Regions from separate parts of the Homo sapiens genome. Here region 2 is linked to region 1. The links come from fine-mapping of genetic effects on gene expression. A gene starts in region 1. The other region holds a variant in brackets. All regions are shown on one strand. Distances are between the middles of the regions. Region 1 holds the start of PCDHGA2 (protocadherin gamma subfamily A, 2). Region 2 holds the start of LOC124901091 (a long non-coding RNA gene).

The links. PIP is the estimated chance that this variant, and not a neighbour inherited with it, causes the effect.
Region 2: its variant is fine-mapped to the expression of PCDHGA2 in blood mononuclear cells (TOPMed, PIP 0.92).

What each region holds. Positions count from the first base shown.
Region 1 is chr5:141,331,598-141,344,061 of GRCh38, forward strand. PCDHGA2 (protocadherin gamma subfamily A, 2) reads left to right here and starts at 7,163. Exons shown (of 4, transcript NM_018915.4): 1 at 7,163-9,798. The coding sequence starts at 7,375. PCDHGA1 (protocadherin gamma subfamily A, 1) reads left to right here. Exons shown (of 4, transcript NM_018912.3): 1 at 1-1,508. It overlaps PCDHGA3 (protocadherin gamma subfamily A, 3), which reads left to right and starts at 12,232. Exons shown (of 4, transcript NM_018916.4): 1 at 12,232-12,464. The coding sequence starts at 12,437. It also overlaps PCDHG@. RefSeq lists a silencer at 2,073-2,302.
Region 2 is chr5:141,509,875-141,520,106 of GRCh38, forward strand. It overlaps PCDHGA1 (protocadherin gamma subfamily A, 1), which reads left to right. Exons shown (of 4, transcript NM_018912.3): 4 at 1,073-3,101. The coding sequence ends at 1,299. It overlaps PCDHGA2 (protocadherin gamma subfamily A, 2), which reads left to right. Exons shown (of 4, transcript NM_018915.4): 4 at 1,073-3,101. The coding sequence ends at 1,299. It overlaps PCDHGA3 (protocadherin gamma subfamily A, 3), which reads left to right. Exons shown (of 4, transcript NM_018916.4): 4 at 1,073-3,101. The coding sequence ends at 1,299. It overlaps PCDHGB1 (protocadherin gamma subfamily B, 1), which reads left to right. Exons shown (of 4, transcript NM_018922.3): 4 at 1,073-3,101. The coding sequence ends at 1,299. It also overlaps PCDHGA4, PCDHGB2, PCDHGA5, PCDHGB3, PCDHGA6 and PCDHGA7, and 15 more genes. RefSeq lists enhancers at 3,660-4,285, 3,831-3,950, 4,286-4,911, 4,691-4,940, 4,912-5,537 and 4 more. The variant G/C (reference allele first, on the strand shown) is at 5,630.

The DNA of each region.
Region 1 (12,464 bases):
AACCACTAGATTTCGAAGAATACAAAATGTATTCAATGGAAGTTCAAGCCCAGGATGGTGCGGGGCTCATGGCTAAAGTTAAGGTACTGATCAAAGTTTTGGATGTAAATGATAATGCCCCAGAAGTGACCATCACCTCTGTCACCACTGCAGTTCCAGAAAACTTTCCTCCTGGGACCATAATTGCTCTTATCAGTGTGCATGACCAGGACTCAGGAGACAATGGCTACACCACATGTTTCATTCCTGGAAATTTACCCTTTAAATTGGAAAAGTTAGTTGATAATTATTACCGTTTAGTGACTGAAAGAACACTGGACAGAGAACTTATCTCTGGGTACAACATCACAATAACAGCAATAGACCAAGGAACTCCAGCTCTATCTACTGAAACTCACATTTCACTACTAGTGACAGATATCAATGACAACTCCCCAGTCTTCCATCAGGACTCCTACTCTGCCTACATTCCCGAAAACAACCCCAGAGGAGCCTCCATCTTCTCTGTGAGGGCCCACGACTTGGACAGCAATGAGAATGCACAAATCACTTACTCCCTAATAGAGGACACTATCCAGGGGGCACCCCTATCTGCCTACCTCTCCATCAACTCCGACACTGGGGTCCTGTATGCGCTGCGATCCTTCGACTATGAGCAGTTCCGGGACATGCAACTGAAAGTGATGGCGCGGGACAGTGGGGATCCGCCCCTCAGCAGCAACGTGTCTCTCAGCCTATTCCTGCTGGACCAGAACGACAACGCGCCCGAGATCCTGTACCCCGCCCTCCCCACAGATGGTTCTACCGGCGTGGAGCTGGCGCCCCTCTCCGCAGAGCCCGGCTACCTGGTGACCAAGGTGGTGGCGGTGGACAGAGACTCGGGCCAGAACGCCTGGCTGTCCTACCGCCTGCTCAAGGCCAGCGAGCCGGGACTCTTCTCGGTGGGTCTGCACACGGGCGAGGTGCGCACGGCGCGAGCCCTGCTGGACAGAGACGCGCTCAAGCAGAGTCTCGTGGTGGCCGTCCAGGACCACGGCCAGCCCCCGCTCTCCGCCACTGTCACGCTCACCGTGGCCGTGGCCGACAGGATCTCCGACATCCTGGCCGACCTGGGCAGCCTCGAGCCCTCCGCCAAACCCAACGATTCGGACCTCACTCTGTACCTGGTGGTGGCGGCGGCCGCGGTCTCCTGCGTCTTCCTGGCCTTCGTCATCGTGCTGCTGGCGCACAGGCTGCGGCGCTGGCACAAGTCACGTCTGCTACAGGCTTCGGGAGGCGGCTTAGCGAGCATGCCCGGTTCGCACTTTGTGGGCGTGGACGGGGTTCGGGCTTTCCTGCAGACCTATTCCCACGAGGTCTCCCTCACTGCGGACTCGCGGAAGAGCCACCTGATTTTCCCCCAGCCCAACTATGCGGACACACTCATCAGCCAGGAGAGCTGTGAGAAAAAGGGTTTTCTATCAGCACCCCAGTCTTTACTTGAAGACAAAAAGGAACCATTTTCTCAGGTAAACTTTTGTGATGAATGTATCAGCTATCTAGAGAAAAATAATTCTTGATTTAACTTACTAGCGTTCGCTCTTTGCTACAGATAGTTCTTCTAACCCATGTATCTTTGTAGCTTTTTATTACAAGTCCTGCAAAATCACGATTGAGTCTACACGTTCATATGCAGGTATATTTATAATTGTTCTTGCACTGAAAAGGAGACTGTGATCATAATGTAGGTGGTTGGGTTGAAGGTATGTGTGAGATGCCATCTCTGTTTGGAAAGAGCACTGCATTAGAAACGGCGATCTAGCTTCTAACATTTTCTTACTTGCCTCTGGGCTAAAAGGTTTGATTAGAAAAGGCTCACCAATATTTAAATGACTAACACTATTTTCAAATTTTCTTTTTATAAGTACCTGCTAATCTACCCCTGAATTTAATGTAGATGTCATCTGTCAGGACACTGTGATAGTTTATTTGGGGACATTTGAAGAGGTGAAGATTGTCTAAAGTAGTATTTTTAGTTGTGTTCATATAAGATTATAGAGATCTATATAAACTGCAATTTTAAATTATTGTTGAATATTTTAGCCTTTTATTCTATCTTTATTATCAGATTTTTTTGGTTTTGAGATGGGGTCATGCTAGAGTGCAGTGGCATGATCATGGCTCACTGCAGCCACTACCTCCTGGGCTCAAGCGATCCTCCCACCTCAGCCTCTCAAAGTGCTGATATTACAGGTGTGAGCTGTGGTGCCTGTACTGAAGAATACGTCTATTTAAGTAATGTATGAAGTAACAAAATGAACAACACAAAATTTATCATGCAACTTGAGAAATATCTTTGAAGCCTCCTGACTTATACATTATACCTGTAATGAAATCAGCTAACAAAAATCAAGTATATATCCTATTTTAATGTGTGTTAACTTTTCAGAAGAAAAAAAAAGTATGGTCGGGGAGTAAGTCCATGCTTTGATGTATTTACTCTGCTCCAATAAAATACAGAGATACATAAAATATAAGAGGAAAGCAAAAGCAAAGTGGTGAGCTAGTCTAAAGCCATGTGAGTTATAGTCTTGGACTTAAAAGCAGAAATTGAAGGTTAGGAAACTGCCTCCAGCAATGTAATAGGGACAGAAGTGCTTCAGACTAGATAAATATCTGGACCAGGCTTACTGCCTGAATCCAAAATAAGCAATGAGGCCCTTCAGCTGGTTAAAAAGGAAAAGAAAGATGCATTAACATGCTGCCTAGCTGGGCGCAGTGGCTCACGTCTGTATTTCCAACAATTTGAGAGGCTGAGGCGGAAAGATCCTTGGAGCCCTGGAGTTCAAGACCAGCCGGACAGGGCGGCCTGCGACTGTAGTCCCAGCTACGCGGGGCGGGGAGGGGCGGGGCGGGGCGGGGCAGGAGCTGACGTGGGAGGATCCCTTGAGCCCAGGAAGTCAAGGCTTCAGCGAACCGTGATCGCGCCACTGCCCTCCAGCCTGGGCGACAGAGCCACACCCTGTTAAATAAATAAATATAATAATAAAAGCTGTTTCCCAATTCCGGTGGTTATAACTTTCTTCGTAAGCTGTGTAGACCAAGAGAGAGAGACAGACACGGATGCTGGATAGAGACAGCGAACACCAAGTATCTCATATGTGAGCTGTGGTATCCAGAATATCACTGCTGTGCATCATTAAAGCGTCATTAAGAGACCTAGTTATGGCCTGGGACCTGAGGTCAGATAGAAACTATTTCAAAACCATTACAAATGAGCACTGAACCCAGGAGGGAAGGAGAGAGGGATATAGTGTAGAAGAGAAAAAAACAAACTAAAACTAAAAACAAACAGAGCTCTTCCACTAAAAATAAATATACAAACCAAAATTTCAAAACACACTTGTCTCGTAGAATTTATTGTTACTAGTGAGAAACTTTCTGTCAACACACTGTTATTTTTTAAGGTAATCTCTGTTTTCTCTCTGGTAACTATTGAAGACTTTCTCTCATTCTTGCTGTGTGTCTGTTGCATTTTTATTTTTATTTTTTGCTTGGTACCAAGAGTATACTCTCAATTGATAACTAAGTTATCTCACTTCTGGACTTTCTCAGCTCTTATAATCATAATTTTTTTTCTGTGTATATACAAGTGAGCTACATTTACCTATTAAAGGACAAATATTACAAAACTGGTTGATTTTTAAAATCCATATTCTAATAATACACGTGCTTAAAATAAAAATACACTGAAACAGTGAAACTAAATATATATGTACACACACAAAAAAGAAAGTCATGTTAATGTAACAACAAAGTCATATTTAAGGTAACAAACACAAATTGTGATTTTAAAAAATGAACTGATTATAGTTGTAAAAAGAGCAGATGATCAAAAGGATATAAAAATATAAGCTTCTATTACTGAAAAATATAGCTTAGAAAATACCGGAATATTTAAACATAATTCCATAAGAAATAATAGACCCCACAGGAAGAAAGTTAGTTAACATAAAGAAGATTTGAACAACATAATTTAGAAGCTTGATCTATTAGGATTCTAATAGATCCGTTCTGCACACAACAAATATGGAATAGTCATCCTTGAACAAGCAGACAATCTACAAGTTTATTACCTAGTCATTACAAAAAAGGGTTCAGCAAATTGCAAAGTACCAATAATATACTTGCCTTACAACACATACTTAATCACAAAGCAAACATTTAAAAATAGAAAAGGGAAAAAGTTTGGATATTTACATCTACACCCTTAAATAACTCTTGGATTTCAAAAATCACAATGACAATGAAAACTACTCAGAAAAAAAGGACTTAAATATTCTTTATTAAAAATTGTGAGATGCAACTAAAACTAATTAGGAGTAAGTTTATAGACAAATGCAATAATTTTTTTAAAAGCAAACAAAATTATTTAAAATACATGAATTTAGCTTGCCATTCAAGAAGTAAGATAAAAAACATACAATGAGTATATACTAAAATAAAATGATGGAAAAAATAACAAAGAGTTACATTTTTGAAATGCAACCATGGAAGAGTTCTGAGGATGAAATAATGGAAGCAGACAATAAATGTAATAAAACCAGTGGGGAGAAAATGAAAATTCTGTCAAGTCTAACGTTAGGACTCATGTAAGAGAGCCAGGCACAATGGCACACCTATAATCCCAGGTACTGAGTAGGCTGAGGCAGTAGGATTGCTTGAGCCCAGGAGTTTGAATCCAGCCGGGGCAGTATAACAAGACCCAATCTCTATAAAACAAAAAAACACAAACACAAACACAAAAATAAAAATAAAAAACAAAAGCAAAATATACCATAGTAGCTCTACAAGAAAACATGGTGAGTTGGTATCAATTATTTCCAATATATTTTTCTTCAGTCTTGTAAGAGGAATGGATGAAAGTAAAAATGAGAAAATTTCAATAAGGAAGGAGCCAAAAGGCAAACAGATTAAAGTGTCACCAGAAATGGGCAATTCCACTTATGCCACATACAAAAATTAATTCAAAATGGATCAAAGAAGCAATATTCAGAAGCAATAAAACCCTTTTAGTTATTATGTTTAAGAACTAAAACTATACAACTCTTAGAAGAAAACAGGAGGAAACCTTCATAACATTGATTTTTGGCAATGATTTCTTGGATATGACACCAAAAGCACAAGCAACAAAAGAAAAAAATTGTATACTGGACTTTATCACAGTTAAAAACTATATGCAGCAAAGAACAATATCAATAGAGTGAAAAGGCAGCCCACAGAAAGAGAGAAAATGTTTCCAAATCATGTATCTGAGAATGGATATCCAGAATAAAGAACTCGAACTCAACAACAAAGAATCCCAAACAATTGGATGTTAAAATGAGCAAAGGACTTGAATAGACATTTCTCCAAAGATGATATACAAATGGCCAAAACCATATGAAACAATGTTCAACATCACTAGTCATTAGGGAAATGCAAATCAAAACCATAATGAGATACTACTCCACATTCATTAGAATTGCTGTCATAAAAGAAAAGAAAAGAAATGTTAACAAGAATATGGAGAAATTGGAATTCTTGTGCATTGCTGGTGAATATAAAATGACACAACTGCTGTGGAAAATGGTATGGTGACTCCTCAAAAATTTAAACATAGAATTACCATATAATCCAGCAATTCCACTCTGGTTATTACCCAAAAGAAGTGAAAATAGGGACTTCAACAGATATTTGTACACCTATGTTTATGGCATCATTAGTCACAATAGTTGAAAAGTGGAAGTAACCCAAGTGTCCATTGACAGATGAATGGGTAAATAAAAAGTGGTTCACACATACAATGGGCTGTTATTTAGCCTTAAAAAGGAAGGGAATTCTGTTACATGCTACAATATGGACGAACTTCAAAGACATGATATCAAGTGAAATAAACCTGTTATAAAATGACAAATACTGTATGATTCCTCATATATGAAGTTCCTAGATTAGTCAAATTCATAGAGAAAAAAGGTAGAATGGTAGTTGCCAGGGACTGGGTGAAAGGCAATGGGGAGTTGCTATTTAATAAGTACAGAGTTTCAGTTGGGGAGGATGAAAAAGTTCTGGAAGTGGATGGTGGTAATGGTCACACCAGAATGTAATTTGAATGTACTTAATGTCACAGAATTGTATGCTTGACTATGGTCAAAATGGTAAAGATGAAACAAGAGTAAGAAGACATCCACTGCATTGTATTTTACACCCTTGGAAAATGAATATCAGAAAAAGAACTTGACAACCTCAAACAATTTTGAGTGACTGATTCCTAGTGTGGTGAAAAACCCCTTCCGGCTCTAGCTTTATCAAATAGACCTGCTTTCTGTTTCTGTAATGTTCCATGCTGTCTCTTACCTTCAAGCATTTGTTCAGAGGTTCTAGAACACTTCTTCAGCCTTTTTCTTGATTCAATCCTACTTTTTATGATTCAGCTTCAATCATGCCCTCAAAAAGACTTTTCTGACCCCAAATCTAGACTGGATACCCCTCCTAGGTATTCCTCCATCACCCAGTGTTTCCTACCTCATATCACAGCAGTTACCATACTCTATTATACTCTCTTTACTTTCTTATGTCCTCCTCCAACCTTCACGCTTGAGACCAGGGCCTGTGTTTATCATGTTCACCATTTCTAGCTCCAGCTGCAATCATGCAAAGTGGGAGGCACATGTACCCAATTAAGTGTCTGATGATTCAATAATTTAAAGGCAGATTTTGAAGGTAAATGCAAAGCCATCAACCATAAACGTTCAAAATATATAACCTTAGAAGAAAACGTAGCTAACGTTTCTTAATTGATCTTACTGCTTCTGATTATACAATAAGAGATGGAAGATGTTTGGAGCAAGGGCAGTGGTGGCATTGATTAATGCCTTGAGCAGTCAATAATACTTTCCTAGCAACTATTATCAAGATCATGTTCATTTATACCATTCTTATTAATCCTGATAAAAAGATTCCTGTTTTGAAAGATCTAATTCTAGGGTATCTTAGAGCTGTAAGATTCTTTAAAGCGCCTTGAAAGTCAACAAAGGCAAACAAACAAGAAGTAACTTAGGTTTTCCTGAGCAGGTGCAGAAATTATTTAGGCCTCTGAGCGTCGCTGTTGACCACCTAAGGAGTAAAAGGCAGCGAGACATCCAATCCAGCAATACGGCTCCCACAGCACAAGGGGGTGGAGGTTTGGCCCTAAAGCTTCAGGACACCAAAGAAATTCAGTCGAACAGCCCACCAGTTCTCTCCATAGGGACCTGGGTCCCGTGAATGCTGGTTATCTCACACCCTGAGGAATAAAGATTGGAATCCGCACTGGATGCTGGAAGTTGACTCGGAGAAAATTGCGACAGGAGGGAAATGGCGGCTCTGCAAAAGTTGCCACACTGCAGAAAGCTGGTCCTGCTGTGCTTCCTTTTGGCGACCCTGTGGGAGGCCAGGGCCGGGCAGATTCGCTATTCTGTGCGGGAAGAGATCGACAGAGGCTCCTTCGTAGGCAACATCGCCAAGGACTTGGGTTTGGAGCCCCTGGCACTGGCAGAGCAGGGAGTCCGCATCGTCTCCAGAGGTAGGTCCCAGCTCTTTGCTCTGAACCCGCGAAGCGGCAGCTTGGTCACTGCGAACAGGATAGACCGGGAGGAGCTCTGCGCTCAGAGCGCACCCTGTCTGTTGAATTTTAACATTCTGCTGGAGGATAAATTGACTATTTATTCAGTAGAGGTGGAAATAACAGATATTAACGATAATGCCCCTCGCTTTGGAGTAGAGGAACTGGAGCTAAAAATCAGTGAAACCACTACGCCAGGATTCCGGATTCCTCTTAAGAATGCGCATGATGCAGACGTAGGTGAGAACGCCCTTCAGAAGTACGCACTCAACCCAAATGACCACTTCTCCCTGGACGTGCGAAGGGGAGCTGATGGGAACAAGTACCCAGAACTGGTGCTGGAGCGCTCTCTGGACCGCGAGGAAGAGGCTGTTCACCACCTCGTTCTCGTGGCTTCTGATGGGGGTGACCCAGTGCTATCTGGCACCTCCCGCATCTGCGTGAAGGTCCTGGATGCGAACGACAATGCGCCTGTTTTTACACAGCCCGAGTACCGCATAAGCATTCCGGAGAATACGCTCGTGGGCACCCGGATACTCACGGTGACCGCCACTGACGCAGATGAGGGCTACTACGCTCAAGTGGTATATTTTCTAGAGAAAAGCCCTGGAGAAACCTCAGAGGTATTTGAGCTTAAGTCAACATCTGGAGAACTGACAATCATAAAAGATCTAGATTATGAGGATGCTACATTCCATGAAATTGATATTGAAGCTCAGGATGGTCCGGGCCTTCTAACCAGAGCGAAGGTTATCGTCACGGTTCTGGATGTGAATGACAATGCCCCAGAATTTTACATGACATCTGCTACTAGCTCAGTTTCTGAAGACTCTCTTCCAGGAACCATAATTGGGCTTTTTAATGTACATGATAGAGACTCTGGGCAGAACGCATTCACCACCTGTTCACTCCCCGAGGATCTTCCTTTTAAGTTAGAAAAGTCAGTAGACAATTACTACCGACTGGTTACAACCAGAGCCCTTGACAGGGAACAGTTTTCCTTTTACAACATCACTCTAACCGCTAAAGATGGAGGGAACCCCTCCCTGTCCACGGATGCTCACATTTTGCTCCAGGTGGCAGACATCAACGACAACGCACCCGCCTTCTCCCGCACATCCTACTCCACCTACATTCCCGAAAACAACCCCAGAGGAGCCTCTGTCTTCTCAGTGACGGCCCATGACCCCGACAGCAACGACAATGCTCATGTAACTTACTCTTTCGCGGAGGACACTGTTCAGGGGGCACCCTTATCCTCTTACATCTCTATCAACTCCGACACTGGAGTACTCTATGCACTGCGCTCCTTTGATTATGAGCAGTTGCGAGACTTGCAAGTGTGGGTGATAGCGCGGGACAGCGGGAACCCTCCACTCAGTAGCAATGTATCATTAAGCCTGTTCGTGCTGGACCAGAACGACAACGCGCCCGAGATCCTGTACCCTGCCTTCCCCACAGACGGTTCCACTGGCGTGGAGCTGGCGCCCCGCTCCGCAGAGCCCGGCTACCTGGTGACCAAGGTGGTGGCGGTGGACAGAGACTCGGGCCAGAACGCCTGGCTGTCTTACCACCTGCTCAAGGCCAGCGAGCCGGGACTCTTCTCGGTGGGTCTGCACACGGGCGAGGTGCGCACGGCGCGAGCCCTGCTGGACAGAGACGCGCTCAAGCAGAGCCTCGTGGTGGCCATCCAGGACCACGGCCAGCCCCCTCTCTCCGCCACTGTCACGCTCACCGTGGCCGTGGCCGACAGGATCCCCGACATCCTGGCCGACCTGGGCAGCCTCGAGCCCTCCGCCATACCCAACGATTCGGACCTCACTCTGTACCTGGTGGTGGCGGTGGCCGCGGTCTCCTGCGTCTTCCTGGCCTTCGTCATCGTGTTGCTGGCGCACAGGCTGCGGCGCTGGCACAAGTCACGCCTGCTGCAGGCTTCAGGAGGCAGCTTGACAGGCATGCAGAGCTCGCACTTTGTGGGCGTGGACGGGGTTCGGGCTTTCCTGCAGACCTATTCCCACGAGGTCTCCCTCACTGCGGACTCGCGGAAGAGCCACCTGATTTTCCCCCAGCCCAACTATGCGGACACGCTCATCAGCCAGGAGAGCTGTGAGAAAAAGGATTTTTTATCAGCGCCTCAATCTCTACTCGAAGAAGAAAGAGAAGAAACGTTTTCTCAGGTAATCTATCTTTTCACAACATACGTACTAGCTAGTTTGCTGAAGTAATTCACTTACTTGTTTACTATATCTATTTTGTTCCCCATATTTCCTTGAGGGTAGAGTCAAGTTTTAGGAAGTGAGTCTTGGTGAATTATTTCTTGGTAGGTCTTAGTGTTCACAGGCTGTAAGAGGAAGAAGAGACGTGAGAATCTTTGTGCAATGAATGTAAACCAGGAGTTAATAGATAAGATTATCCAAAGAGCACTGCATTAGGAACTAGGGTGTCTGGTTTCTTATACTTTCTTCTCCATCCCTGGGCAAATCATCTCATCCACCCAGATCAACAATTTTTTCTTTGTTAAAAATATAAAGATTGGAGTTTATGTTTACTCAAGTCCTTTCTTCTTTTAAGTTATGACTCTTACTCTATATTTGAATCTGTATATGAACAGTGAAACATGTTAGTTGGCTAGTTCTTTCTCATTCAGTCTTAATACATTTCTTTCAGTTTGGCAGCAAAATTGTTTTCCTTAACTTGCATGCCCTTCCCTGTTAAAAATATGGAAATTTAGAAATATACATTCCTTACAGTGTTTCAGGAAGGTATGTCATATTATTTTGGCTTAGTTTTAAAAATCACATTAACCTCTAAGCTATATGCTTCTTGAAGAAGTGACTGACTTATCATCTGCTCTATAATAAAGCTGTAGAGTGGTAATAAACAGGTTTCTCCTTTTTTTTTATCTTTCTCATACGTGGGAACCATACTGTATTTTAATCTTTAAAATAATATATATCCTCAATATAGTTTTGCTTAAAGAAAAGATACAAAAGATTCATATCATACAATTGCCCAGAACCAACTTCTTTATACATCTCTCTTCTCAAGGTTTCTACTCACAATAGCTGCTAGAAATGTTCCCAATCCCTCACCCAATCCCAGTGCCCCTCTGATCAATTTTCTTTTCCCATTCCTCTTCCTATATTGGCTTTTAGTATGTTGGTTATGTATTTAATAACAGAGAATAATAAGCACACTAATGTTCTATGTAACTGGCATCATTTTTTATTTTTATTTGAAAATTATCATGTACCAATTGAGCCTTTTATTGAATGATACCATATTTCTCAAAGTGCTGTGATTCTTTCCGTTGCATTTGATCAAGAAAAAATTTTCTGAGACAAGGTGTTGTTTTGGTTACTATTACATAATTGTCTATGAGTAAAATTGGAACTCACTGTGGAATAATATGTCATAATAGCTTTACTTGTAAGTGAATAATAAAGTATAAACAGGAAAATTAAAGCAAAGTTATTTTTAGTGTGTGTAGTAACTCCACAAGAATAAATGTCTTATGCATAGATATGTAATGCATCATGATTGAAACGACAAATATATTGTATTTATATTTCTGTGCTTGGAAACTTATGGGGAAAGAGATTCTGGAACATAAAAGCTTATTTCTACTAGTTTCAGTTGGTTTTGAAAAAACATCCTTACAGTCTAGATTTAAACAAAGGAAACTTCTTTCAGTACCCTGAAGGTCTGTGATTTCTCTCTCACACCTAGGCATTGTCATGCTGTTCTCTCCCACATCCAGGCCTTTTCACTGATCCACTCCTCTCATGTTTCCTGGGAAAGCGTTTGCTAACATTAAAGGCCCAATTGAAGGCCCCCCTAACCCCCTTGGCTTCTCCCATTATGGTAATTATCTCAGTACACTGCAATTCCCTGTTTGCTTTTATATCCTTATAATCTCTGTGAAGGAAGCTACTGTGTCTATATTGTTCACCTTAAATCCCCAAACATATTGTCTGATGCCTAATTATGTGTTTGTTTAATGAATATTAAATAACAACAAATATCGAAACTAAGTTATCAGGTCACCAAGAACAAACTTAAAGAAATATAATGTATAAATATGGCTGATTTCTGTGTGTTTCTTTTCTTTTTTTCCTTGTCTCAGCTCTTAGAGAGTTAAGAGTATAGAGAGGGAAAGGTCAAAGAGGAGGTGGATATCTTATCAAATAACCCTGATAAATGTAGTAAGTATAAGAATAAACACATTATCAAGGTTCAGTGGTGGAAGAACAAGTGGTGGTCATGTCTTTTAATAGTTGTGTTGGTCCTTACGGCCAGTTCTTTGTTACTGTGTGTTTCTTAAACTGAACAATTCAAAAAAGTTAACTCCACTATGTTTGAAGCAATATTGGTGGCATTAAGGTTAGTGCATGGATTCCCAAGAAAGATAACTTGAGGTGACACTGTTTAACATATATCGATTCAATTATGTTCAATCAACACTAGTCCTCTTATCTCTGACAAGAAGGATTTCAGATCTTGGATAATTCAAAAATAATAATGTGTCTGAGAGGATGCAGTAAACGGTTAGGCCTCTTAGTGTCGCTGTTGACCACTCAAGAAGGAGAACGCAGCTGGAGAACTAGTCCACCATTTCCTTGCTCCTAAAATGCAAAGAACCAGCAAATCAGACTCAGAAGATCCGGGGCGGCTGCCAACCTCACCTCTTAGTCAACCAGCTGTTTGACCTGTGAATTAGGCCCGTAAAAGACTTCGTTTCTTGAGAAAATAAGATTGGAGTCCGTCGTAGGAAACTGGAACCGAATTCAGAGAAAGCGATTCACCGAAAAGGAAATGACCAATTGCCTGAGTTTCCGAAATG
Region 2 (10,232 bases), 180 kb after region 1:
GGTGATGGTGACTGACTGTCCCTTCCAGCATGCGCTTAGGTACACTTGGGCCTGAATGCCCCTCTAACAAATGCTACCGGGTATGGCCTTGGTCCTTCTAACACTTGGTTCCCTCATCTGTAAAATGAGGGTCATACCACATAGCTGGCTGGGCTGTTATGTAGAGGTTAAAAGTGATTGTGCATGTGAAGCATCCAGCAGAGTGCCTGGCACACAGTAGGTGCTCAAATGCTGTTTTGAAATACAAAAATTAGCTGGGCTAGTGGTGTGCACCTGTAATCTCAGCTACTCAGGAGGTTGAGGCAGGAGAATCACTTGAGCCCAGGAGGCAGAGGTTGCAGTGAGCCGGGATCGCGCCACTGCACTCCAGGCTGGGCGACAGAGCAGGACTCCATCTTAAAAAAAAAAAAAAAAAAATGCTGTTTTGAAATGGAGGCTTGGAAGAGCACTCTTCACCCCCACCCCACACACTTACTAACGGAACTACCGAATCTCTACTCGTGCCAGGCCTTGCTTGGCAAAGGCTAGGGGCATGTAAAGCCATGGTTTCATGGCTGCTGCCCTCCAGGAGCCCATGGTCTAGTGTGGGAGTCAGAGGCTCCCTTGAGAAAGCCAGGGCAAGGAACTGAGAGCCCGTGTCACAGCCCTGAGAGAAATACCAGCGAATGTGTTTTGAGCACTTACATCTACCAGGCACTATTTTACGTACCTGACATACATTTTCTTATTTAGCATTCACTAAAACCAGAAGAGGTGGTTACCATTATCATCCCCATTTTGCAGATGAGAAAACTGAAGTGGCATAAGGAGGTTAGGTAGACTTGCCCAGGATCACAGTGAGTAAGGAAAGGAGCTAGGAATCAAACCTAGACTTTCTCACTCCAGAGCCTCTTAACCTCTACCCTCAACTCTTGTGAAGAGAGACTACCTTGGTGACCCCTATATTCCCAGTGCTCAGCGTGGTCAAGGCCCAGGGTGCTGTATAGGCATTCATTAACTGCTGGGGATATAAGACAGTGACTGTTGAGGACCCTAAGTTTAGCTCCCACCTGATCTTCCTCTGTCTCTGCAGAAGCTGCTGATGGGAGCTCCACCCTGGGAGGGGGTGCCGGCACCATGGGATTGAGCGCCCGCTACGGACCCCAGTTCACCCTGCAGCACGTGCCCGACTACCGCCAGAATGTCTACATCCCAGGCAGCAATGCCACACTGACCAACGCAGCTGGCAAGCGGGATGGCAAGGCCCCAGCAGGTGGCAATGGCAACAAGAAGAAGTCGGGCAAGAAGGAGAAGAAGTAACATGGAGGCCAGGCCAAGAGCCACAGGGCGGCCTCTCCCCAACCAGCCCAGCTTCTCCTTACCTGCACCCAGGCCTCAGAGTTTCAGGGCTAACCCCCAGAATACTGGTAGGGGCCAAGGCCATGCTCCCCTTGGGAAACAGAAACAAGTGCCCAGTCAGCACCTACCCCTTCCCCCCCAGGGGGTTGAATATGCAAAAGCAGTTCCGCTGGGAACCCCCATCCAATCAACTGCTGTACCCATGGGGGTAGTGGGGTTACTGTAGACACCAAGAACCATTTGCCACACCCCGTTTAGTTACAGCTGAACTCCTCCATCTTCCAAATCAATCAGGCCCATCCATCCCATGCCTCCCTCCTCCCCACCCCACTCCAACAGTTCCTCTTTCCCGAGTAAGGTGGTTGGGGTGTTGAAGTACCAAGTAACCTACAAGCCTCCTAGTTCTGAAAAGTTGGAAGGGCATCATGACCTCTTGGCCTCTCCTTTGATTCTCAATCTTCCCCCAAAGCATGGTTTGGTGCCAGCCCCTTCACCTCCTTCCAGAGCCCAAGATCAATGCTCAAGTTTTGGAGGACATGATCACCATCCCCATGGTACTGATGCTTGCTGGATTTAGGGAGGGCATTTTGCTACCAAGCCTCTTCCCAACGCCCTGGGGACCAGTCTTCTGTTTTGTTTTTCATTGTTTGACGTTTCCACTGCATGCCTTGACTTCCCCCACCTCCTCCTCAAACAAGAGACTCCACTGCATGTTCCAAGACAGTATGGGGTGGTAAGATAAGGAAGGGAAGTGTGTGGATGTGGATGGTGGGGGCATGGACAAAGCTTGACACATCAAGTTATCAAGGCCTTGGAGGAGGCTCTGTATGTCCTCAGGGGACTGACAACATCCTCCAGATTCCAGCCATAAACCAATAACTAGGCTGGACCCTTCCCACTACATAATAGGGCTCAGCCCAGGCAGCCAGCTTTGGGCTGAGCTAACAGGACCAATGGATTAAACTGGCATTTCAGTCCAAGGAAGCTCGAAGCAGGTTTAGGACCAGGTCCCCTTGAGAGGTCAGAGGGGCCTCTGTGGGTGCTGGGTACTCCAGAGGTGCCACTGGTGGAAGGGTCAGCGGAGCCCCAGCAGGAAGGGTGGGCCAGCCAGGCCATTCTTAGTCCCTGGGTTGGGGAGGCAGGGAGCTAGGGCAGGGACCAAATGAACAGAAAGTCTCAGCCCAGGATGGGGCTTCTTCAACAGGGCCCCTGCCCTCCTGAAGCCTCAGTCCTTCACCTTGCCAGGTGCCGTTTCTCTTCCGTGAAGGCCACTGCCCAGGTCCCCAGTGCGCCCCCTAGTGGCCATAGCCTGGTTAAAGTTCCCCAGTGCCTCCTTGTGCATAGACCTTCTTCTCCCACCCCCTTCTGCCCCTGGGTCCCCGGCCATCCAGCGGGGCTGCCAGAGAACCCCAGACCTGCCCTTACAGTAGTGTAGCGCCCCCTCCCTCTTTCGGCTGGTGTAGAATAGCCAGTAGTGTAGTGCGGTGTGCTTTTACGTGATGGCGGGTGGGCAGCGGGCGGCGGGCTCCGCGCAGCCGTCTGTCCTTGATCTGCCCGCGGCGGCCCGTGTTGTGTTTTGTGCTGTGTCCACGCGCTAAGGCGACCCCCTCCCCCGTACTGACTTCTCCTATAAGCGCTTCTCTTCGCATAGTCACGTAGCTCCCACCCCACCCTCTTCCTGTGTCTCACGCAAGTTTTATACTCTAATATTTATATGGCTTTTTTTCTTCGACAAAAAAATAATAAAACGTTTCTTCTGAAAAGCTGAACGTTTCTGTATAAGCGATGGAAGCTCCTGGCATGTGTGCATGAAGTGATGAGCTGAGGTGGGTGCTGGAAGAAGGGCGGAATCGGGAGGCCACTTTGTGTCATTGCGCGTCTAGATGTTTCCGAATTGCGTGTGTGTGTGTGACTGTGCAATATGGTTGTGTATGCTTGCAATGCCGTTGTGCCTATGAGACAGTGTGCGATTGTGTGCCTATGGATCTGTGTACCGTGTGCCATTGTGTGATCGGTCCGCTGTGGGGGTGGGGATCTGAGTGCGGCGTGTCAGTGTGCAGTGGAGTGTGCAGTCTAAGCTTGCGGCTGTCTCCAGGCAGAAGAGGAGACCCCGGCGCGGGCGGGGGCGGGTTGGCGCCGGGCAAACGCCTTGGGTAGAGGGGAGAGGACGTTTCGTTAGTTCCCGCCCCTTCCTGACTAAAATTGCCTACCCGAAGCGCCCCGGAGGGCTTCACGGGAGGAGGGTAGACTCTCCTTTGCCCCCGCACCCCCACCCCCGCTGCCTAGGGGTTTTGGGAAAGCCGCGGGAGTGGGAGGGAATGCGGGAGGTGATTCTTCCAAAGCCAAGTCTGCAGCTCGAGCCTCAGTTTCCCCATCTGGAATTCGCCTTCCCGCTGACATCTCCGTAGCGAAGCCTAAGAAATTGGAGGGCTCATCCTCTTCTTGCGGGGGTCAAGGGGACTGAAAGGACGTGCAGGAAATGAGATCCATCGCAGACTCAGCTCCCCTCCCTCCTTCCTGTCGGTGCTTTTCCACTCACTCGCCTGCTCTCCCATCTCCCCGCCCCCTCCGCCTGCCTCCTCGAAGCACTGTGGGATTCCGAGGTTGCTGCAGCCAGAGAAGCTGCAGAAAAACACGGAGCTGGGGGTGAAGGGGGACTTAAAAGGGGAACTACCCGGAAGGACCCAAGAACACAAAGACAGAGCCACTGCGGTTATCTGGCTGGTCAGCAAGGGTATGCGGCTTCCTCCGCGCTGCGGAGGCTCCCAGAGCCAGGTCACCCATTCTGCCAGCTCAAGTCTGTTGTCATGGGAACCAAACCTTCCAACTTAAGAATCTGGGGGCGACTTTCTAGCGTGGGAGGAAGGGTGGTGTGCACGGTTGCTGAGATGGAAGCAGGGTTTTGTTACTCAGAGCCAGGCTGCGGAGGGGCGGGGTGCCGGGCGCCTGGGTTCTATTCCAGGCACAGCAGCAGACTGGCAGAGCGCGTGAGCAGCTGTGGTTTGTCCCCTAATTGGTATGTGTGCCTATAAAGCTCTGAACCAGAAAGGCGTGGCCTCCGGGGGGACGGGAGGGAGGCGGCAGGCAACCCATCCCCACACCTCAGGCCATACTGAGGAGGCAGCTGCCCAGGCTCCAGGGCTATTTAAAAGGCTTTTATTTCCAGTTCCAGAGCCCGCCCGAATGGGTTTGTGGTCCTCTCCAGGCCTCTCCCTGTCTATCCTGGGCCTGCTCATTGCTGGTCTGGCTTTTTTGTGCAGGTCATAACGTGCTCAGACAAGTATGGCTCCAAGTGGCAAGTCATCTGGAGCATGACCTCAGGCTCCCAACCTCTGCTGGGCAGGCTCAGGTTTCCACCCCAGGGTAAACCCCTCTACTCTGGAATGTGGTCTGTGGCCACCAACAGAGCAGAGGGGATGAGAAAATGGGAGCCAGATGCTTCCCTCAGCAAGAGACACAGGTACTGCCAGGAAACCTTGCGTGACATCTGGGAACATGAAAGGTTCCAAGTGAGTTCCAAAAAAGGGCTCCAAACCAAGTAGCAGCAATGTGGAAGAGTCAGGGAGCTGAACCAGGCGCCCACTCCTTTACTGTGGCCAAACGGCCCTGAGGTGAGCTCTGGTGGGGCAGCAGCCACCATGTATTAATCATCTCTAGCCCTGTGCCCAAGTAAAGTGTCTGGCACCTTTAGCTTTTTCACAGTGATTTGTCAGGTCAACCAGGGATTTGAGGCAGGAAAGACTAGAGGAGCCTGGACTAGAGTGAAAAGAAAACAGCTCAGAAATTCACACAGGAAGCTGTAAGGCAGTACTGTTTCAATGCTTTATTAACAGTTGGAAACAAAACCAACAAACTGGAGGTGATGACATCCCAGAAGCCTATGAGGCAAGGGAAATAGGTTTGCATTTTGTCCCTCACACCTCTCTCTCTCTCTCTTTTTTTTTATTAAATGCATCTTAGCAAAAGTAGATTAAAAAAGAAAGGGTCAAAGCCCCAGATGTCAGCGAGCAGGGAGGAGGTGACCCAGGGGAGCAACAGACGCCCTGCATCAGAGTCCTCCCAGGAATAGTCCAAAGGAGCTGCTCTTGCCCCTTTATACACAAGCGCCAGCAACCAAAACCCTCCCTCCTGGCAATAAGGCCTCACTATAGTTGCCCTCATGCTTCCTAAGCTCTCTCTTGCTCTAATAACTCTAATTCTGGGCCAAGCCCAAGAGTGCCATTCTTTCTTCCTAGCTGGGGATGGAAAGCTGAGAGGGGCACAAGGAGGGCAAAAGTATCACCCTAAGCCA[G/C]AGAATTGCAGCTTCCTGTGGTTGGGGCCACCAAACAGTTCAGTGTGCCCACCCACTTCTCTTTTAGAAGAGAGCTGGGGTACAGTGTATGAAGGCACTCCTGGTGCCCAGTTCCCCAGAATGTCCAGTTAGCATCTGCACATTTGGCTTGATACATTTATACATTTATAAAAAACTCTGTGGTCTTAGAGTTCCTGCTACTCTTAGGCCTGGCCCAGCTCAACCAGAGAAGGGGTTCCTCCTGTGTCGGATTCCCTGGGAGAGAGGATCTGCCTTGGACTCAAGGGTCCAGAAGGTCCAGGGGCACATTCAGGATTGGGCCTGTGAGAAGAAATCCCAGAACTCTGTAACCTGCCACCAAAGCTTCTTACATTATGGAGGGGAAAGGGGGAAGGAACAGTTTTCTTTAAAAAAATTTTTTTTTTCATACAAAAATAGATCCATTTGCAAAACAATTTCTCAGCCAGGAGGCTCCACCTCCCATTTCCTTGTAGACAGAGGGTGAGGTGTTGGGATGGTCACAGTACAACCCATAGTCCAGATGAGATGCACCAAAGCTCAGGGAAGGCATGAGGAGGGAAGGTGGCTCAGTAGCCTGGGGTTGGTGCAGAGCGTCCAGAGAGGCAAGGGCATAAAGCGTGGCAGAAGCTGGGGGCAGGTCCCACACTGTCGCTATGCCCTGCCTGCCTGCCCACAGGCTCTGGCCTGGGCCACAGCACAGCAGGGAAACTGGTCCAGATCCTTTGCTTTGGAGGCCTTTCCCAGGAAGGTGGGGTAAAGGTGGGATTTGCTCCCTGCTTCCTTAGGAGCAGCTCCCAGTGCCACACCACTAATAATAAATAACCACAGCCAGGAGAGGGAAGAGCAGAGACAACAGCAATGAAAGGAGGGATCTAGCCCAAAGGTTTACAAGCCCCATGCTATTCTCAGGGCCAGAGAAACCACAAAAGAAAAGCACAAATCCAGCAAGACTGACCTAGGGGGGAAAGCCCATTAGAAAGTCAGGGCTGAGAAAAAGCAGGCTGGGCCTTGTCTGAGATGAGGCCCTCTGAGTAACAGAGAGGAGACAGGGTTAAGGCAGCAAACATGGACCCTGCTTTGGTAATACAACAGCCAGGGCTGGCTAAGTCGGGCTCAGGCCTCCCCTGCACTGCCCTTTCCTTCTGGCCTCCAGGCAGCTGAAGCTGTATGTGATGTTGAGAGAGCAGCAGGCCAGAGAGAAAGACAGGGTCAGGGTGGTGGGAGTGGCCACCCCAGAGGAATATCCCCTTGAGCCTTTAGGCACATGCTGCAGGGCAGGACAGTCTGCGGCTCCGCTGAGGAGCTGCCGCGGTCACAGGACCCACATTAGCTTGCACGGCCAACCAACTCCTTGGCTTCCTCAAGGATTGTGGGGAATGTCTCACTGTTCTTGGACACCTTGGCAGGAACAGCAGCCATGGCATCATCCTTGGTCAGCTCCGAAGCTAGCAGAGATGTGACTGCACACCCGGCCTTCCTGTTGGCTGCAAGAGAAGACGAGAGATTCTGTCTATGGAAGGCCTCATTTCTAATTTCTTTCAAACTCTACAGCAGATAATCAGCGTAAGCCATGCAGACATGACTACCTTGGCCACTTCACAGAGGCCCTTACTTTGAAGAAAGGGGCAGAGATCCAGCATGTGGAATATATTGTTGGGTGGCAAAGAATGTAAGAGAGTGTGGTGCAACAGGAAAGCAAGCCTTGCCCCCTTGCTTCCCTGTGTGAAAACAGCACAAAAGTTTGAACACAGACAGACAGAACTGGGCTGAAGTGTTAGCTATGTGACTTAAGGAGAGATGAAGTATTCAAAGTCTATTTTCTCGTAATAGGGATGTTGGAATTAAATAGACTAAAGTTTAGTACATAGTATTATTTTTGTTTTCTTGACAGGTCCCAGGAAACTCCTAGGCCAAAACACTTCTCAGTCAGCCCTGGGAGGGTTGTCCCTAGCAGAAGGCAACCTTCCGTAAGTGGCTGGAGAGACTCCCGCAAAGAGGAACAGCAGCCACGCACTGACACCGCACTCCCACGTGTTCCTCCAACAACAGATGCCCACATGCCTTAGCTCTTTCCCACCCCTTCAAAGGTAGCAGCCGTAATACAAATGCCAAGGGCCCTACAAGGTGTGTAGAGTATGTGGGGGTGGCATGGCGGGGGGGAGGTAGTAATAAAAACTATGCCAGGGAAGCAGAACTGGGATAAAGATGGACAGGAGAGGACCCCTACCAAGAAATCTCAGCCCAGGTGGCTAAGAGATGGTCAAGTTCCGGCTGTCATACCAGATTAGAAAAGAAGAACCAAATCAATCCACGAGTTTCTGTTCTAACTGCTGGGTTTCATCCCCAAGACTCTCATATTCATTTATGGTATCTAGGCTTATGGCCCCAGTATCTGCAGCAGGAAGGCCACTCCTTGAGACCATGCCCATCTCATGATGTTTCCTCCTCCCATGCCCCAGAACAGCACAGAGCAACTGTGTATACACAAACAGCTGTCTGGGACGAAAGAAGCCTGACACGAAAGGCCATATGTTATGGGTCAGCTTCTGCGAAATGTCCAGCACAGGCAAACCCAGAGATAGAAAATAGACTGGTGGTTGCCAGAGGCAAGGGGAGGGGAGAATCAGTAGTGACTGCTAATGGGGATTATGAAGTTTTTCTTCTGGGGATGATGAAACGTCCTGGAATTAGATAGTAATGGTTATACAATCTTGTGGATATTCTAAAACCCCTGAATTATACATTTTTAAAAGGTGAATTTTAGGTATGTAAATGATAGCTCAATTGGAAAAAAAAAAAAAAAAAAAAGACTTCCTGGAGATCTGGGAAAGCTGGAGTGGAGAAAGCAGTACCGGAATGTTTTAGAAGCAGGACCAGATGAAAGAGCCGAGCACTCCTAAATAAAGACCAAGACTGGGGCAGCTGCATGACTGGAATGAAGCGCCTTTTTGGACCAGCAAAAAGCTTTAGGTAGGCAGAAGCCAAACAGGATCAGATAGCCCGTCTTTTTTTTTTTTTTTTTGATGGAATCTCAGTCGCCCAGGCTGGAGTGCAGCAGCGCAATCACAGCTCACCGTAGCCTCAACCTCCCAGGCTCAAGTGATCCACCCACCTCAGCCTCCCTAGTAGCTGGGACTATAAGCATGTGCCACCATATCTGGCTATTTTTGTATTTTTTTGCAGAGATGGGGTCTCTCCATGTTGTCTAGGCTGGTCTTGAACTCCTGGGCTCAAGCAATCCTCCCACCTTGGAACCTAAAGTTCTGGGATTACAAGCATGAGTCACCACAGCCTGCCAAAGCCCAAGTCTTAACCAGGTCTTCTCTCCCTGCAGAGCCATGACCCAGAGCTACTGTTTTCATCCCAGGAGAGGCTGCCCATAGATCAAGCAGGGAACACGCAGCATGCACACAGGTTACCAATTTAAAGGTCTCCTCCTCCTCCTCTACTTCCCAGGGGCACAAGAGGTTGTCTACCAAGAGGAGAAAGAATAGTGAAGACCCTGACTGACAGCCACAGGACTTATCTAGTTACAGATCATAGGTATGTGCCCGAGACTGTGGGATTTTCACAAAACCATTTATTGGATTATGAACATAAACTAATGCCCCGTGACTGAGACAAGTGAGGAAAAGGAGCCTACGTGAGTGTGACTATGATGGTCTACATGTGTGCATTTCTCATACTGTCCTTACCACCAAAATCTTCCTCAGGCCTCCTACATTTCCACTCTCTTCTGAAGTACTCCCTCTCTAGACCCCATTTCTCATATCCAGAAGGGTAGTAGTTTCCTATCATTTTATTATTTCTTTGAATTCAGTCTCCAACAGTTGAGAAGACACTGCGACTCTGTGCATGTGTGTGTGTGTGTGTAACTCTAGTGGTATATATATGTTGAAATAACATCTGACTCCAGACCTTGGGAAAAGAACACTGGGCCACTTGTCCTGGGCAACACAGGAGAAGGCAGAGGTCCCATGTGGTAGGTCTTTAGCTGCTGCTTTCTGTGGTTTCTTCCTCCAAAATAAGAAGATACCAGTTGTACCTAACCAAGTGGTGTTTCTAGACTTTTCTGGACTCAAGAAGCTTCTGATGTATTACAAACTTCATAAGAACCAGGAGCAGAGAGTAGGTAGGGAGAAGATCAAAATTTCCCTTTTAAGCCTTGAAAGCCTATACACCAGGGAGGGTGTGATTTGGCCTAAGGTCAGGGGATGAGAAAGCTCTTGTTGGAACAGGTCTCCCAGCTTTCCACTCACTCACCATTATGCTCAGCAGGTTGAACAGTCAAGAAAAACTGACCTCCCCATGCTTCCCCCAACTTACTCACTTGTTATTAGACTATTGAAAAGTAGCCATAGAACCAGATAAATATTTTGACTACAAGAGAACAGTCCCACAGGCTGTGTGGGAAAAGGGAACAATGTTGAGATACTGGTGAATGCTCTCTGAGGACAGATTCCTAGAAGTTAGGGGTGGGCTAGGATAAAAACACCAGCAAAATCAACCATATAACGCAAGTTTTAAAAAGGTTAGTGATTTGAAAAAAGACCTTTATAAAACGTAGGCTAGGAACTATTAC